4 linked regions of the Homo sapiens genome follow. Changing the gene in region 2 together with the main gene of any one other region gives a genetic interaction. Each region holds a gene or a part of one and is shown on either strand. Other genes may lie near its edges.

What was found. A genetic interaction does not mean that the proteins touch.
Region 1: changes in ARL5A (region 2) and ETAA1 are lethal when combined (synthetic lethality), as found in Homo sapiens cells (one large-scale study listed by BioGRID).
Region 3: changes in ARL5A (region 2) and TRAPPC12 together harm fitness more than expected from each alone (negative genetic interaction), as found in Homo sapiens cells (one large-scale study listed by BioGRID).
Region 4: changes in ARL5A (region 2) and SEC23B together harm fitness more than expected from each alone (negative genetic interaction), as found in Homo sapiens cells (one large-scale study listed by BioGRID).

What each region holds. Positions count from the first base shown.
Region 1 is NC_000002.12:67,408,901-67,412,589, reverse strand, and holds the end of ETAA1 (ewing's tumor-associated antigen 1), read right to left. Parts: intron 2,680-3,689; coding exon 2,552-2,679; 3' UTR 501-2,551; downstream 1-500. UniProt on the Homo sapiens protein: Replication stress response protein that accumulates at DNA damage sites and promotes replication fork progression and integrity.
Region 2 is NC_000002.12:151,813,752-151,819,371, forward strand, and holds part of ARL5A (ADP-ribosylation factor-like protein 5A), read right to left. Parts: intron 1,449-5,620; coding exon 1,388-1,448; intron 566-1,387; coding exon 418-565; intron 1-417. UniProt on the Homo sapiens protein: Lacks ADP-ribosylation enhancing activity.
Region 3 is NC_000002.12:3,416,634-3,421,193, reverse strand, and holds part of TRAPPC12 (trafficking protein particle complex subunit 12), read right to left. Parts: intron 1-4,560. UniProt on the Homo sapiens protein: Component of the TRAPP complex, which is involved in endoplasmic reticulum to Golgi apparatus trafficking at a very early stage.
Region 4 is NC_000020.11:18,544,880-18,549,439, reverse strand, and holds part of SEC23B (protein transport protein Sec23B), read right to left. Parts: intron 3,485-4,560; coding exon 3,407-3,484; intron 832-3,406; coding exon 670-831; intron 1-669. UniProt on the Homo sapiens protein: Component of the coat protein complex II (COPII) which promotes the formation of transport vesicles from the endoplasmic reticulum (ER).

The sequences.
Region 1 (3,689 bases), about 84 Mb from region 2:
TGAGAGATAAGCTCCGCTTTCAACAGGCTCTTTTTGGAAATAATGGCATTATTAGCATCAGTCTGAGATGCAGAAACAGCAGCGGAACTTTAGGGGGAAATTGCCAGGCTACCAGTTGTCCCTTCCCCAGATTCCCTATAGACTAGGAAAGAGAAAAGCCAGGCAAACTATATAGTCAGCCCTCTGCATGCTCATTTATGGGCCATTCACCCCCTAATGTTTCCAACAAGGGCTAAAGGAAGAGTCAGGATAGGAAAGGAGAGTGGTATGAACAGGAGCAGTGACCCTAAAAACCAGTCATGTGAGGTTCAGATGTACAGGGCCATTACACCTGCCACCACCCAGAAGTGCTATAAAAGTTTTTTTTTTTTTTTTTTTTTTAAAAAAAGGGAGTCACTTAGAGAAAACTATTACGTAAATAATACTATGAGCTGTATAAGAATTTGGCAGAATTACCAGAGACACAAAATGACAAATTATAAAATAAGATTTATACAACTAAACAACACATAAAGGCATTATAGTATTGCTCAATGAAAGACACAATAATTAGTACCATTATGATCAGAGAGAAGCAATCAATTCCAGTGAAGATGGTTAGGTACGAGGTTCAAACAGACTTATTAGGCTGAGTCTAAATGAATGAACAGAATAGGCTAAAAGTACTCTTAAAAAAGCAAGCAGTAAGCAGGGAGGAGCTTAAGCAAGGACAGAGATATCCAAAGCATAGTCAGAACACAGTGAAGCCACTTTTAGTAAAAGATTCTCAGCTCTTTATTTTTGTACATAGAAACTACTTGCATTTATCTAGGTTATTATATATTCCTGGAAAAATAATATAGGTTAGCTAAACTCCAGTACTCCACTGTAGATATGAAAATACCATTTTTGATGTACAGTCTCCAACTTAAAATGGTTGACTTACAATTTTTCAACTCTAACGTGATGCAAAAGTGATATGCGTCCAATAGAAACCATACTTTAAAGTTTGATTCTTTCCCAGGCTAGAGATATGTGGTACAACATTCTCACGATGCTGGGCATCAGCTCAACTGATACTCTACAGTGTGCCGTATTGCCAGATGATGTGCCCAACTCTAGGCTAATATAAGTGATTTGAGCATGTTTAAGGTAGGCTAAGCTAAGCTATGTTGTCTGGTAGATTAAGTGTAGTAAATGCATTTTTAACTTAAGGTATTTTCAACTCATGATGGGTTTATTGGGATGTAACTACACGGTAAGTTGAGGAGTATCTGTATAGCTATAGGGCAGTAACTACCATATTATCACAGCTTTGAGACACTTGATAGTGATAAATGCCACACCATGACAGGTGTTTCATATCTCTAACTTTCTCTAGATCTCCTAAAACCATTTAAGAGGAATAAAGCATCCTCCCTGCCTTACGCCCTCTAGTTGGACTTCTATTACTGGTTTAGCAAATTCCAAATAGGCAAAATGGCAAAAAAAGAAAAAAACAAAACAGTAATAGAGAAGAAAAGATGAGTCAACTAAGTAAATTAATTGAGGGGAAAATTACAGTTACAGAAAAACTGAAAAGAAAAAAGATTCTCATTTTTATATCCTGGAAAGACTAATTCTTTAAAGCAAAATAAGGAACAATGAGCATTATTATCAAACAGTCCTTATTGTGCTTTTAATTACATCTTTTGTTTTATACTAGAAAATAATACTCCCTCAAGTTATTTTATGTACTGATACTTTGAAACAAATAGTATAATTGTTTAGGTGTCCAAATAAATCATTCTAATTGTAGCACAGCATTAACTTGCCTATGACTTTGAAAACAGTATTACTTTTTCTCACCGATACAATAAGGAAGCTGGACCAGATGACATATGAAGTTTCTGCCAGTTCTAAATGTTAATGATGCCACATTACTTTTGTAGACAATCCACTACTTCTTTTCCTCTATGTTAGACTTCTAAAATCAAAGTTTTCCTAAATATGGTGGAAAGTTTCCAAAATGTGTCACATTTTAGAATTATTAAAATTCAAATCCACTTCTAAGAACTGAACATAATTTCCTTACAAATAAAAAGTCCTTTATTTCATATCAACCATGTTCCTAGAAATATGAAAGTATTAATTAAAATCTGGAAGTGTATAAAAACCTTAAGCAACAGTTAATGAAAGTAAAACTACAAAAACAGTCTCTACTAACTTAGAAAGTTGAAGTTTTTTATTAGGAAAAGACATTAGAATAGGAAATAACGTAGATTACCTCTTTTTTGATGATCCTCTGCAATAATAGCATTTAAAAATATAACTACTTTCCTCTGTATAATATCCGTACATAATTGCTAACTTTCCTGAATTTCCAAAACTTTTGTATTTAATGACTTTCAAATACATGTCCAAGGAAATGTTTCATTTACCATTGCAAACATTGATTTATTAAATAAAGTAGAAGTCCAGGCTTTATAAAAGTCAGCATTACATTTCTCACAGAGAAATCAAGAAAAAAAATTTCCTATCAATCACAGATAGTTATCAGCAGTCTTCGTGAAGTCTTCCAACTAATATTTCATTAAAGAAATGAAGTGGGAGCTGCATTTACAGATGAGGCTCGTGCTTTAGCCATTCTCCGAACCAGTGCTTCTTGTCTTTTTCTCTGAATTTCTTCAGGAGAACACTTTCTATTTTTCTCTTCTTCCTCTAAAAATTCAACAAAAGATGAGTTTTACTTTTATAGCCTATAAAGTCATTCAATATGTGCTTTAATTTTTGCTTTTTTTAATCACCCAGATTTGCCATATTAGTTGGCTATTAAATCAAACTAAACTACTGAATATAAAATTCTAAGTACATAATACAGATATAATGCTCCAGTTCAAAAGAAAATCAAGCACTGATGGATCTGTCTCTATTTGATACATTCTTTTCACAGTGTGATAAAATTCAGTTTGATAGAAAACTGACTACCCACCAAATAATTCTTGTGGACAATGACATCTAATTTATATGACCCACGAATAAATATATCTTTAAAAAGGATACATTGGGATTTAAAATGTTATGTAAACTTTAATTGGAAAATAGTCAAAATATAAGGAATTAAATTAGTTATCAATCTCAAACAGTGTATATTTACATAAGATGTTATATTAATATTCACATCTACTTTTCCCTATAGAGCTATAAAATTTTCATTTCATCCACTGAGGAAATATATTTTAGAGTGATAAAATGAAATCTGTCATGTCAAACTGGTTACCTGTGATTCACTGTCAGAAATTATATTTTTATTTGGAGGATGCATTTTGGAGAAACTTTAAAATAATCTCAATTAACTTAGTAAGTTGAGGCTTTGTATTAGAAATCACTTTCTCATTTAAATGATATTTTAAGTTTAAGACTATCACCCTAATACATATTTAAGTATATCATTTATTCTGACATTTAGAAAAAGATACACAATTTATGAGACATTTCTCTTGTTAACTAACAGAGGCATTTTCAAAATATATAATCTGCCTCCCTTTCCTTTCTTGGTATAATCAGAAATGGGAGGGGGTATTCAGGCTAAGAAATACATATTTTAAATAAGTTTCCCAGATGATTTTGATGGCTTTTATTTCCTAAGCTATTTACCTAACAGACTGTAGATATTTTTTCCTAAAGAGAGACACCAGAAGATACTTTCTAATTAGCTTGACTAATTATCT
Region 2 (5,620 bases):
AAGAAAAACAATTATTTAATGTGCAATTGTGTTTTGTAAAAGAAAATAGTAAAACTGGCTAGGATTCAAACCATCAAAACCCTCTCATTTGGTGAGCTAAACTCAGTCAAACATAAATAGAGAGAAATGAAATTATAAACTATGAGATGGAAGTCATTAAAAAAAACTATTAAAGACAAGTTCTGAGATCAATACACAATCAGAACATAATTAACCACCAATTCTCCCTATAGAGGTTCAATGATAGTGGACATATTGAACAATGACCTTGGAATAGGAAATCAGATTTTACTCTGCTTAAACTCTCTATGTATTAACATACTGTGATATTTCAAAAAGATTAACTATAAGGACTCAAATCTAGATGTTTTCCAAGCATTCTGTTTATAGAATTTTAAATATTGTAAGAAACATTACCTCTGTGTTAGTATAGTAAGTGTTCCAGGAAGAACGAAGAGATTCTTGGCCACCAATATCCCACATTAGGAAACGTGTATTATTAATCACTATCTCTTCTACATTACTTCCTATTGTAGGAGATGTATGTACAACTTCATTCATAGAACTGGGGAAAAAAGTTTATATACATTACAATTAGCAAGGAAGCTAACTTGCTTGAACAATTTTTTAATCAAGGACAAATCAGCATGACCTCCTTTTATAATTTATACCTAAATATCTTTTTCCCACTAGTTTACAACATGAGTGAGGGTTTAAACAGGGCTGGAACTAGGTCGTAGGCTATCTGGCATATACTAGGTCATTCCAGGAAACTTTATAGTTTCTACTTTATAGTTTTCTACTTTCTTTTTTTTAATGTTACCCAGGCCGGAGTGTAGTGGTGTGATCATACATAATCAGTGGCATGAGGTTCACTGCAGCCTTGACCTCCTGAATAGGATCAAGCAATCTTCCCACCTCAGTCTCCTGAGTAGCTGGAACTACAGGTGTGCACCACTACATCCAGCTAATTTTAAAATATATATATATTCATATATATCTTATAAAGAGATGGCATCTCACTATGTGACCCAAGCGGTTTCTCAAAGTCCTGGCTTTAAGCGATCCTCCCACCTCTGCCACCCAAAGTGTTGGGATAAAGGCATGAGGCACCGCACCCGGCCATATTTTTCTACTTTCTACAAACAAAAGAGCTTTAGCACAAAACAAGTGGACAACTCAATGCCAACTATATGCTCAATATCATATAAATTTCTTGCTTTCTACTAACTATTGCTGAGATCTGGCTCCAGGTTTATAGCCAACCTGCTTTCTTACAGGGTAACTTAGGTTTCATGTAATTTCTTACTGCATTCATTGATCGACTATCACCCAGGCCAAAAAAGTAACTAGAAATAAAATAATTTTTAAAATAGTTAATACTTACAATTGGTAAAGAATGGTAGTTTTCCCTGCATTATCCAGCCCAACAATGATAACTTTGTGCTCTGAAATAGAGAAAACACCAGTGATTTTTTTTCAAAAAAGGAAAAAAAAAGATTAATTATAGGAAAAAATATACTCTGTATCTCACCCTTCTATCTATGGCATAATTCAGTGCATGGCACTTTATACTTTCTCAGAAGTCAAAAGAACATCCTAGCAAGACCAGCAGAAGTGTGCCATTATACTCACCTTCCCCATCGCCATTATTCTAGAGACAACTCTCATCTTTCCAACCACCTCTCTAGGAAGCCATGGCACTACATTTCCTCTATTCCTAGGCAAGCCTACTCTCAGTAAAGTAGACCAAACATAATCACAATTTACAAATGACTTAAAGTATAAATGTTTCACATTGGATTACATCAATGAGGTTCTAACTGGAACTTAAGGCATCAACTGGGTGCATGTGTGTGGAGTGGAGTGAATGGGAAGGAAAAAGGTCAGTTTTTTAAATGGGTAATCGTAAATTATGAGTACCTTAAAACCACAGGGCCACTGTAACATGAAAAACAAATCTAAGAACCTATGGCTATGGTGGCAGCGACTCCCTCCCCCCATTTGGCTTCTGTGGCACCACTTTCTCCAAGTTTTCTTCCTGTCTCTAGTCATTTATTTTTTTTCAATGACTCCTCTTCCTTGAGTCTTCTCTCAGACATTCACGTTCCCCAGATGTTTTCTTGCACCCTCTTCACATTTCAGCCAGGCATTTGTAAGACCCATCTATTTCCAGCCTGTCCGAAAGCAATTCCCAAAGACAGCACAGCATGTGGTAGAAGCTAGTGTCCAAGATGGCCTCTGGATAGTCATGCCCTTACGTAGCCGCCTCCTCTTGAATCTGGGGTGGCCCTGTGACTTACTTTTAACCCACAGATGCAGCAGAAATGACCAGACGTGATTTCTGAGCCTAAATCATCAGAAACATTGCAGTTGCTGCCTGGCTGTCTTGGACAAGTCCTCCTAGGGTAAGTCAGATACTATACAGCAAGCCCAAGACTGCTGTGCAATTTAATGAGTAAGCCCAAGTTGATCATGTGGTGAGACCCTGTTGAAAGGGATGACCAGTCAGCCCCTATCTCTTCCAGCCATTCTAGCTGAGATGATAGACAGACAAATAAAGAAGCCATCTTGGACGTGCAGCCTGGTTGAACCTACAGAGTACTTTAATTTTAGCTGCTATCTGACTGCAACCAAAGGAGACTCCCCAAGGTAGAACTTCCTAGCTGAGCTTAGTCGACGCGTAAGAAACATGAAAAATAATAAATCATTGCTTTAAGTCATAAAATTAAAGAATAGCTTATTACACAGAAACAGATAACTGAAGGAGATATTAATGGCATTATATGACCTTGAGCAAATGACTTTTATTATTTCTCTGACCTTAAGTTTCTTCATTGTAAGATAGGGGAAATACCACCTATCACTCAGGGTTGTTTAACAATTAAAATAGCACACAGCAGTGCCTAGCACTGAAGAGGAGAGAGTTCTTAACCTGTTTTGCTAGCCCAGAAAAAGATAAAAATTTACTAGAAACTGTACTTCAAAGTTTGAATTTTGATCTTTTCCAAGGCTAGTGATATCTAGTACAACACTCTCAAGACACTGGGCAGTAGCAATAAGCTGCAGCTCCCAGTCGGCCATTCAATAACGAGGGTAAACAACCAATACTGCATAATAGTATACACTGTGCTATCAAATGGTTTTGCCCTACTGGAGGCTAATGTCTGTGTATTGAGCACATTTAAGGTAGGCTAGGCTAAGCTATGATGTTCAGCAGGTTAGGTGTAATAAATGTGTTTTGACTTAAGTTACTTTCAACTTACAACAAGTTTATTGGCACATAACTACATCACAAGTTGAAGGGCATCTATAAACTAAAGTTCAAGTCACTCTCCCTACACAAGCTGCACATATGTTCACAGCAAACATTTCTCTACAGCTACTCATGGTATCACTAAATGTCGGAATTATCCTAATTCTCCATTTAGGGAATTAGACCAATCCTTTAAAGTCTAGCTTTCCATGTAGAATCACTTTCTCCTGCTTTCCCACACTACCTCTACTCTAGCACTTATCCTAATTATTTACATGTGCACTAATCTCCGCTTAATGAGGCATCTTCAACTGTATAGAATACATATTAATCATCTTTACATTTCTAGTGACTACAACTATTCCTGGCATAAAGTAGGTACTCAATAAATGTTGAATTAATATTCATTCTATAAGTAATAAATGTTGAGGATTATAACACCTCAGAGTAAGATCTTTATAATTCAAATGGTAGATGTTTTCCATATAATTGCCACTTACCAGAGGAAATTCCTAATGATCTATAGGCACCTCCTATTATACAAAAATAGGAAGATCAAGTAAATAAAACATTTTAATACAATCCATTTTATCCAGTCATCTATTTCTTTGTAAGAAAGAGCAGGCAGCTTAGAACCACTAGGGTCCTTAAGTGACATGACCACCTGCCCCTTTTATGAGTTATTAAGAATAATTTAAAGACCTAGGGCCCAGGCCAGGTGTGGTGGCTCATGCCTATAATCCCAGCACTTTGGGAGGCTGAGGCCGTCGGGTGGATCACCTGAGGTCAGGAGTTCAAGACCAACATGACCAACATGGTAAAACTCCATCTCTACTAAAAATACAAAATTAGCTGGGCGTGGTGGCACATACCTGCAATCCCAGCTACTTGGGAGGCTGAGGCAGAAAAATCGCTTGAACCCAGGAGGCGGAGAGTTGCAGTGAGCCAAGATCATGCCATTACACTCCAGCCTGGGCAACAAGAGCGAAACCCCGTCTGTGGTCTTTAGTCTCCCAGATCCACAAACAATTCTGCTACTATCCCAGAATAGACAGGACTCAGAGAGAGCAATTCATGGAAATGACTAAGACATAAATAAGAACAGCAAATGAGTAACATACAATAAGATCAAATGTTGAAAAATGAATGACAAGTAACAAGTCTATCCCTGAGGATATGTTACATGATGGCTGAATTAAAATCAGATGATTACTTGGGGAGCATGGAATCCCAACCACAAGGAGTGTTACAGGCTGCAATGACTGATGTGAATCCTTTCTTTTTTTTTGAGACAGGGTCTCACTCTTGCTGCCCAGGCTGGATTGCAGTATCACAATCACGGCTCACTGTTGCCTCAACCTCCCAGGCTCAAGTGATCCACCCACCTCACCCTCCTGAGTAGCTGAGACCACAGGTGTGCACCACCACGCCTGGATATTTTGTTTCTTTTGTAGAGATGGGATGTCCCTGTGTTTCCCAGGCCGGTCTCAAACTCCTGGGCTCAAGCAATCCTCCCGCCTCAGCCTCAAAAAGTGCTAGGATTACAGGTGCAAGCCACTGTACCTGGTCTGAATTCATCTTTAGAGCAAGGCCATGCCTGCATGAGGGCCAGGTAATCGAGTCCTTGGGACAAGGTACCTTTGCACCTAGAAAGTTTTTAAATAGCATGGCAATTCTGCCTAACTCCATTTTTCTATGTCCCAAAATTAAGCATTCCTTTTTTGATGATGTAACTCCTCTTCAGTTTTATTAATACACGCACTCATAAACATTTTTAACACAACTAGAATTCATTATCAGGCTATACTCTGATCTCTGACTTGGATAAGAGTTTTTAGCTTCCCAGGAGAATACTGATTTTTAATCACAGCATTCTCAAAATGTCAGCTTATTTTTAAGTTACGGGAATATATCCCGCCCCCGCCTCCACCCCATTCCCCCAATGTATTAGCTACGGGGCAGAATTTAGATGGGCTTCTCAATACTTGGGAAGAAAATACAATTACTCTGACCAATGAAATACCAGAGAAAATACAACTACTTTGACCCTAAAAACAGTACAAAATTAGCAGGAAAAGTCCAAAAGGAAACAAAAACATAGGCAAGAATCTATAATATATAACAATAAAGAATGACTAAAAAATGTGTATATGTATAAATAATGTACACAGAGACAACGAAGTAAAAAACAGTACTCTCTCAGTTTCTTACAAGGGCCGTAATCAGCTAAGGAGGTTAAACACTTATTCCAACCATGTTACCATTTTTTCAAAATAGTTTGCTACGGTTCTTTTATAATTGCTTTCAGAGCCTGAGGTACACCATTTTGAATATTGCCACCTAATGGTGGCAAATCTTTTAAAC
Region 3 (4,560 bases), about 150 Mb from region 2:
AATGGGAAAATAAGATCAGAATGTTTAAACCTTTTAAGAAGCTAAAAGTGGATGCTCACTCTGTCTTTTCTCAATGTAACGGGCACTATCTTTGAATACGGTAGATGTCCTCATTTCTGCAGCCAGTCAATAAACATGCTTTAAGTACCTCCTGCCTGACAGAGACTGCAAGGCTGGCGGGGAGGTTAGTGAACGAGCACTCATTAGTGGTATGATCTAGCAAGGGAGACAGACAATTAAACAATATGTTTCTCAAGAATTAGCTAAATGATTTTGTGTGCATGCCAAGCGCTTCTCTGACAAGAAGTTTAGGAGTTTACATATTTTAAAAACGTGTGGTAGAGCCTGCCACACACTTCTTCTGTATACTAACTCACACACGCACTACTCCCTTTCCACGCCTCCTGCACTCCACGCCGGGACACAGAGAACTCAGGACCTGCTCATGAAACGCCTAGGAGGGCAATGAGTCTCAGCTTTGCACTACAGTTGTTCTGCAGTCCTTTATTTGGGCTTCCTCAGGCAGGAGCTAACGACCTGCTCCAATTCCAGCCACAGCGGCGGTGTGGGGGGCTGTGTTGAAGGCAGGAGAGTGGGGCTTGTGTCTTCCGGGGTTCTGACATGTGGCCTCACACTCACACTGCAGGCTCAGCAATGGCTGAGTTTACAGAGCTGAGGTCATCTGTCCCACCTCACAGATGTGACAATTAAAGAAGATACATGAAAGTGCTGAGCACAGTGCCAGGCAGGAGGCAGGCATTAAAAATGTGAACGATGCTGTTAAAAATTCCCAAACTGTTTCTTCATCAATCCAGAGTCAGCGTGTGCGTGCCTAGTGAAACTCTATGTGTAAGGAAAGGAACGGGTGCTGGGCCTTGAGCTTCAGACAGGCCAGGCTCTACGCCTGAGTAGCCGTGTGACCTGCTGCAAGCCACCAGCCGTCCCTGGGCTGCAGGCATCTCAGTTTCCTCCAGGTCTTCTGAGGGGTTGATAGTTGTTTTTTTTTTAAATGCTGAACATCCTACTGTCCACATTACCAGTGTGTTTACCCACTGACCTATCGAAGGACCCCTTGGTTGCCTCTAGTTTTTGGCAACTATGGATAAAGCTGGTATCAACATCTTTGGGCAGATTCTTGTGTGGATATAAGCATTCGGCATAACTGGGTGAAATATCCAGGAGCGTAATGCAGTAACTGGATTGCTGGGTTGTACCTAAGAGTATGTTTAGTGTTGTAGGAGGCCGCCAAGCTGTCTTCCTAAGTGGCCGTGCCATCTTGCCTTCCCTAGCAGTGAGGGGTCCCACGGCTGCACGTCCCGTGGCACTTGGTGTTGTCCATGCTATTTTTCAGCCACTCTAACTGGCATGCGTTTCACTCTCAGGTGAACTTTCCACCGTTCTCTCATGGAGTTTTTCCTTTCACTGTACCTGCCACAGCCTGACGGTGAGTACTGGCCTCCACGGCACCCACCAGCGAGCTGCAAATATTAGCAGGGCAACTCAAATGAGATTTCTTAAACTCTATCTTGTAGATTTTTTTTTTTTTTTTTTGGAAATGAGGACACCAGAGCGTACACAGTGCAGTTGGAGTCTGTGGTTTTCTTCACTAGCTGGTGTGCGGCCACTGGACCAAGTCAGAGAACCACTGATCGACGGTGAAGATGAGATCGGTGCCACGTTCCCCTAAACTGTCCAGACTACAGCAAGTAATACAGGATTTCTGTGTTCTGGTTGACAGTTCAGAAGTATTTTTAGATTGGTTACGATAATTTACTAAAACGATCTCCAAATGCCTTCTCTAGTCTAAATTCAATGCAATAATCACTTTATATAATACAAATGGCTCTGTATATTCTCTTTGAATTGCAAATGTGAAAGAGTGAGAGGGAAAGAGATTGTGCCAAGTCTGAACCAGTTCTATATATGCATCTAGGCAGATTCTGTATCCAGGGGCAACTAATAACTGCTCCCTTCCTGGTTCCCTAGGCCTAAGGCTCTGGCCTTTCCTGCTAGAAAGGCTGGGGCCCTCTTCCCTCAGGACATGACCTACAGTGAGGACAGGCAGGAGTTAATCAGGGAAGGGGAGGGGGCGGAGACCCTAGAAGAGGACAGAATGTGTGCAAAACAAGGCGAGAGCAGGCATGGGGGGCACAGGGAGCAGAGGGCAGGGTGCAGGGCCCGAGGGGATGCAGTAAGGACCAGCGGGCCGGAGGGAGGCGGTGGAGGAGGGGCCGAGCAGGTGTGGATGAGGAGAGGCTGGGGAAGCAGGTGAGGATGGGGTGGCACAGGAGGTGAGGCAGAGGAGGGTCGGGTGTGCTGGCCTTTGCAGGCTTCCAAGAGCACAGGCCACAGCAGTGTCGTGTCATCACATTTGAAGGCCCCTGTCTCCCTGCACTGATGGGGTGAACTTAAGGCGTCCGTGTAGATGTGAGTAAAGCTATGAGGATGTTCCAGCAGCTGGGCCTGGTGCTGGCAATCTGTGCACATCCTTTGGACGCCCCCCACCCCCTACTGCCTGAGTTGGTAGGCAGAGCTCACAGGAACCCAGAGCCCAGCCTCGTGTGCACCTGCACGGTGATAAGGTTCTGTGCTACCATGGAAGAGCTGGGCATTCACAGCAGAGCTGAGGAGCTGGACAGATACTGTATGGCCAGGAAGTCTACAATGTTTATTCTATGGTCTTTTACAGAAAACGCTGGCGGATCCCAGGTCTAGGCCCCTCGTGGCTCAGTAGTTCATTTCTGTTGACTTCAAGGAGGACTGTGGGCTGACTTCAGCCCGCGAGTGGCTTGCGTCTGATACCTGAGGACGAGGCACAGGAATGGAGATGCTCCTGTAGTCACGTGACAGAGAACTTTATGTGTATGGCATGCAGTGATAACAAAGCAGGGGCCTGCATTTGGCATGTTTTCCATTTTATTCTTTCATGACTGATTATTGTGAATTAGTTATTATTTATATTGATGGTGCAGAGTGGCAGAAGCAGGCGAGTATTTGTAGAGATATGGTTTTCCCATGTTGCCCAGGCTTGTCTTGAACTTCTGGGCTGAAGTGATCTACTCACCTCAGCCTCCCAGAGTGCTGGGATTATGGGATTACAGGCATTAGCCACTGTGCCTGCCACTATGACAATGTTTTTTTTTTTTTTTTTTTTTGAGACAGAGTCTCTATTGCCCAGGCTGGAGTGCGGTGGCACGATCTCGACTCGCTGCAATCTCCGCCTCCTGGGTTCAAGTGATTCTCTTGCCTCAACCTCCTGAGTAGCTGGGACTACAGGCGCCCGCCACCACGCCCGGCTAAAGTTTGTATTTTTAGTAGAGATGGGGTTTCGCCATGTTGGCCAGGCTGGTCTCGAGCTCCTGACCTCCGGTGATCTGCCTGCCTCGGCCTCCCAAAGTGCTGAGATTACAGGCGTGAGCCATCACGCCCGGCCAATGACCATTTTTAAAAATGAGAAACTTAAGGTTTTAATTCTCGTGGAAAGAAGAACAAAGAAGTTCGATGAGTAAATGTTGGCGGAATCTGCATTTCCTCATTCATTCACTCAGTGGCCATTTACTGACTGCCTGCTGTGAACCAGGCACTGTGCTAGGCTCGGGGGGACACAAGGCCGACGAAGAGGGCCAGGTCCCAGAAGCCAGGGCAAGTTTCCAACATCAGGTCACAATGGTGAGATTTCAGTTCCAGGCAAGAGGGGCAACTGGGTGCTTCTAAACAGAGAAATGTATTTTGAAATAAAATGTTTGGAAAACGAATCCAGCTGCAGCGTACAGACCGACTAGGGCAGTCTAAAGACTGCACGTGGTCAGACGCTGCATCACCTGGCCCGGCAGGAGGAGAGCAGCAGGCAGCGGGGGCGGTGGGGGGAGCCGTGGCTGCTCCCTAGAGGGTGAGAGAGACCCAGAAACAAACTAACCAATAAAACACTAACGTGGAAATCTGAGGGACAGCGCGAACCTGTCTCTACCCACCCAGGGCAGGCCGGACATGGAGACGCAGCAGGCAGATGAGCTGGGTTTTACAAAATGACAGAAGATATAAAAAATGACAAGATGGTGGAACAGTCACGTGAAAAGTGCCTGGTAAACCTGCAGATGGCAGGTTGTAGCTGAGGAGAGAAGACACTGGAGATGCAGGTTTGGGAGAAGCATGTGCCAGGGAGAGGTGACCCAGAGAGGGAGAGGAAGGCCTTCCTGAGAGGAGCGGGAGCAGGTACCACAGAGCATCTGCCCTGCAGCCCAGGAAGGCTGCCCAGCAGGGCACAGTGAAGGGGCAGGGGGAGGGCACAGTGAAGGGGCAGGGGGAGGGCACAGTGAAGGGGCAGGGGGAGGGCACAGTGAAGGGGCAGGGGGAGGGCAGTGAAGGGGCAGGGGGAGGGCACAGTGAAGGGGCAGGGGGAGGGCACAGTGAAGGGGCAGGGGGAGGGCAGTGATGGGGCAGGGGGAGGGCACAGTGAAGGGGCAGGGGGAGGGCACAGTGAAGGGGCAGGGGGAGCGCAGTGATGGGGCAGGGGGAGGGCACAGTGAAGGGGCAGGGGGAGGGCACAGTGAAGGGGCAGGG
Region 4 (4,560 bases), on a different chromosome or scaffold from region 2:
TGTACATGTACAGACTTGTTTTCTTGTCATTATTCCCTAAACCATACAGTATGACAATTATTTACATGGTACTTACATTATATTAGGTATTATAACTAATCTAGAGATGATTTAAAGTATATAGGAGGATGTGCCAAGGTTACATGCAAATATTATGTAATTTTATATTAGTAACTTGAGTATCTAAGAATTCTGGTATCTGAGGGAGGTCCTGGAACCAATCTTCCATGAATACTGAGGGTCAACTGCATTTCTCAGGTTACTTATTTATTTTCCTATATTAAACATTCGGATTGTTATTTGATCCTCTATTATAGTAGTTCCTTTACTATTTTTTTTTTTGGCACAAAGTCTACTCTGTATCTAGGAGTCTTTCCTTCAGATACAAGACATGGAATTGTTGGATGTAAGTATACAAGCACAAGGAAAAAGAAAGCATCCAAGTTATTTCCTAGAGTTTTTTACATTTATTCCTGCCTTTCACAAATAATAGCTTTATATGTCCTTTGACATTTTCCTAAAGGTATTTTTTAATAGAAATAATGTTAAATTACTATAAAAACTCCAAATTTTACTTCTTTTTTACAGTTCTGCTAAGTAAATTTGCTTAAAAAAGAATATATGTTAGGTGATTCCAATCCTCAGGAAAGCATTTGGGTAGAGCCTCACCTCTGGTGGCCCATGAAAGGAGTAAGAGTAGAGAATGGGCTGGATCATGATGAGGGACTGGGTCAGGTCCTGCCGGGCAAAATGATGTCTGTAATATGACGACTCATCAGGACTGTTGTTAAACACTTGAAGAAATGGAGATCTTCTCAGATGGAACATAAACTGCATTCACAAAGAACGGAAAGAGAAATGCATATAATTGTAACCTTCTTAGACACCCACAGAGTAGATCTACCTCAGGGCTCTGAAATAGGAGAACCCAGAAAAGGGCTCTCTGGTTTCACAGAACAGAAAGCATAAGGGGGCACCAGGGGCTAGGGAAAGAGGAAAACTGAGAGTTGTTGCTTAATGAGCACAGAGTTTCAGCTCTGCAAAGTGAAAAATTCTAGACATCAGTTGCTCAATAATGGGAATACACGTAACACTACTCAACGGTATGCTTAAAAATGGTTAAGATGGTAAATTTTGTTATGTGTGTTTTACCACATTAAAAATTAATTTTTTTTTTTAAAGGGCCTTTGGCCAGGCGTGGTGGCTCACGCCTGTAATCCCAGCACTTTGGGAGGCCGAGGCGGGCGGATCACCTGAGGTCGGGAGTTCAAGACCAGCCTGACCAACATGGAGAAACCCCGTCTCTACTAAAAATCCAAAATTACCCGGGTGTGGTGGTGGGCGCCTGTAATCCCAGCTACTCAGGAGGCTGAGGCAGGAAAATCACTTGAACCCAGTAGGGGGAGGTTGCGGTGAGCTGAGATCAGGCCATTGCACTCCAGCCTGGGCAACAAGAGCAAAACTCCGTCTCAAAAAAATTAAAAATTAAAAATTTTTAAAAAAATACAAAATTTTTTTAAGAAAAGGGCCTCTGGGTATGTCAAAGCTTCCACAGTTAAGAGGAAAGCCAAAGAAATGTTTATTTCCAGAGTCACTGTGCCAGGCAGTGGAGACAGAATATCTGCTCTCAGAAGTCAGGCCCAGTGAGAAAGGCACACTCGGGCTACGAGTTATGAGCCAGAGTACAGGATAGCAGTGGGGAGTGGGGGTGGAGGGCCAGGAGGAGACTTCCTAGAGCTCCGGGGACTGACAGTGCACCCTGAGAGACGTGGCTGAGGAGGCCACAGGGCCAGGGGGAAGGGGATTCCAGGCACAGGAACAGCAGATGACAGCTCAGGACACAAGCTGGGATGGTGAAGTGTTGGTGCAGGGGAGAAAGGGACAAGGGATGACACTGCAACCATAGGTTCTCGCCCTCGAGGATGAGAAGAAGGGGTGGGGGCAGACTTTCAGCTCACATTAAAGAGTTGCCAGAACACGAAAATGAGCTGCCTTGTGAAGTGTAAAGCTTCCTGAGACTCCAAATATTCAATCATAGGTTCCTAAATAATAATCAAGGCTGACATCTAATACATCCTACATGCAAGTCACAAAGCACTTGACAAGAACTATTTAATCCTTCCAATAAGCCCATGAGGTAAGTTCTCTTACCATCCCTAGTTTACAGGTGAGGAAACTGAGGCACAGAGGGGCGAGCAACTTGTCCAAGGTCACCCCACTACTGAGTGTCACAGCTGGACTCTACACCTGGCCGCCTGGCTCTAGAGACTGGGCTGTTGGCCTCTTTCCTAGAATGCCTTGACAGAAGGAATCTGAGAAAGCATTTCATCTGGTTTTCAAGCTGTGCTCTTAGAGTCTTCATCAAGTCCTCAGGGGCCCAGGGATGAGGGCTCTGGTGGGACCCAGTGTGGGGGTGGTACACAGGCACAACCAGAGAAGCACCAACTCTGTCTGCTTTATGTGCTGGCTTTTAAGGGCAGCTCCTCTCAAAGAAAGGATTCCATGGCTTTAAAAAAAAAAAAAAAAAAAAAAAAAACTGCAAACCACTTCACCAGACCAACTCCCCACTGCTAGAGGTGGGAAACCAAACTCTACGGGGCTTTGGAACCTCCTCTAAGGTCAGCCCCTGCGGAGCCAGCACTGGAACCTCAACCTGACTCTGGCCGGTCCAGGGCTCTTCTCACAACACCACACAGCTTTAACCTCTGGCACATGGACACCTCAGAGTCCCAGGCACCTGCTATGGAGCTAGGTCACATTTAGTGCTGAACAGGTTACTGGCATTGTGCTAAATATTTAATACTCAGTTGGCCTCAGCTCCTGTAATCCTTATAGACACCCATGAATTGTGCTCTATTTCCTAAGTTACAATGGAGACGGAAATTCATCTACTTCTCCTGCTCCTCTCTCTTGTCCAATGGCTTCCAAAGGCTTGGTTCATGCAGAGTGCAGTTACTTTCAGGAGCTGCTTATTGCTCACTCCTGGTTATGATGCACATAATAACCACAGACATATTATTAAATATTTGTTGTACTAACTGTGGTTTTGTTTTGTTATCTTCATCTCCATGTGTGCTCATTTTCTTGGTTTGTTGCTGAGGTAGCTGTTTCCCCAGAACTTCTACACATGAGAGATATTTTTTACGGCCTTATATCAATGATCCTATTTTGCCTGTTCATGAAAATGTATGCATGAGTTTTCTCCCCTCTGCATGTCATCTCTATCTTCTGTAGGGCGTAGGGTGCTGTCTTGCCTAGACACATATTCGACTTGGGTTGAACAATCTCTGTCACCTACAGACTGAGTCTCAACACATTAAAAAGTCTTCACTTTACCCTAAGAATAAAGTTAATTTCTATCAAAATTTATTGCTCTGTAGTTATTTTAGAAACATACATTACTTACCTGAGGATATAGAGAAAAGGAATCTGATAACCTAAAAGAAGTGGGGTCTTCTTTGTTATACTGTCCAAACTTTTGACACTATGGAAAGAAAATACCAAAAAACAAACAAACACACACAAAAAGAGAGAGAAAAATCTAAGTTAGCATTACCTGGAAATATTCCTGGACTAAGCTACATCCAGTCTGAACTCTGCCACTTACTATAAGTCCTAGACTAGCACTTCTCAAGCATCAGTGAGCAGGCAAATGACCAGGGGATCTTGTTAAAATGCAGACTCTAGGGAGGAGCTGAAGATTCTGCATCTCTAATCAGCTCTCAGGCAATGCTGGCCTGAGGACTGCCCTAACCAGAGAAGCTAGGTGAGCTCTTCCAGGCACCTGTTCCATATGAAAACCCTCTAACACCATGAAAACTAACAATTATAGTTACGCTTTGATGTTCTCTCACACTAAAACTCAAATTTATTTCTCCCAATGGCAGACTTCTGAACCACAATGTTTTCTCTTCCCGCCTTTATTTCTGCTCACACATTTCTGGTCACTAAAGAATTGGACTGTTCATCATTTAAAGAAACCCCATTTCTAACAATTACTTTCTTCCCACAAAATCTGGTGTCCTTCCGCAGTTCTCGTCTTCTTGAACTTCCTAGCAGCATGAGCCAGGTGACTGCCCAAATGTCTCGAAACTTTCTCCTTCAGCTGCTAATACATCACTTTCCTATTTCTCATAATCTCTCCAACCAACCCTTTTCTGCCTTCTTCAATGGTTTTGTCTTCCTCCTCCCCCTAACTGTGGACTCCTTGGGGGTTAGTTCTTGGCCCCCTCCTCCCATCCTCACTGCTTTGGGTACAAATGAACACTAGAGCCAGATGGGTGTCATCCAAATCCACCCTCCAGTGTCCAGTGCTGACCTATAGCCTGAGCCCCAGTCAGGACATCCACCCAAATATGGGAGTTTTCGTGAGACACACTTTTGCAAGTTCACATTCAATTATCAAAAATTATCAAAAATAAACTATTACATTAAAAAAAGAGAAAAAACTTTCTCCCACCCTAAAGTTGCTCTCCTTTCCCATCTTCTACCTCAACACCACTCATGCAGTTACCCATGTGTGAAATGTCATTCAGTGCTGACTTTTTGGTTTTTGACTTT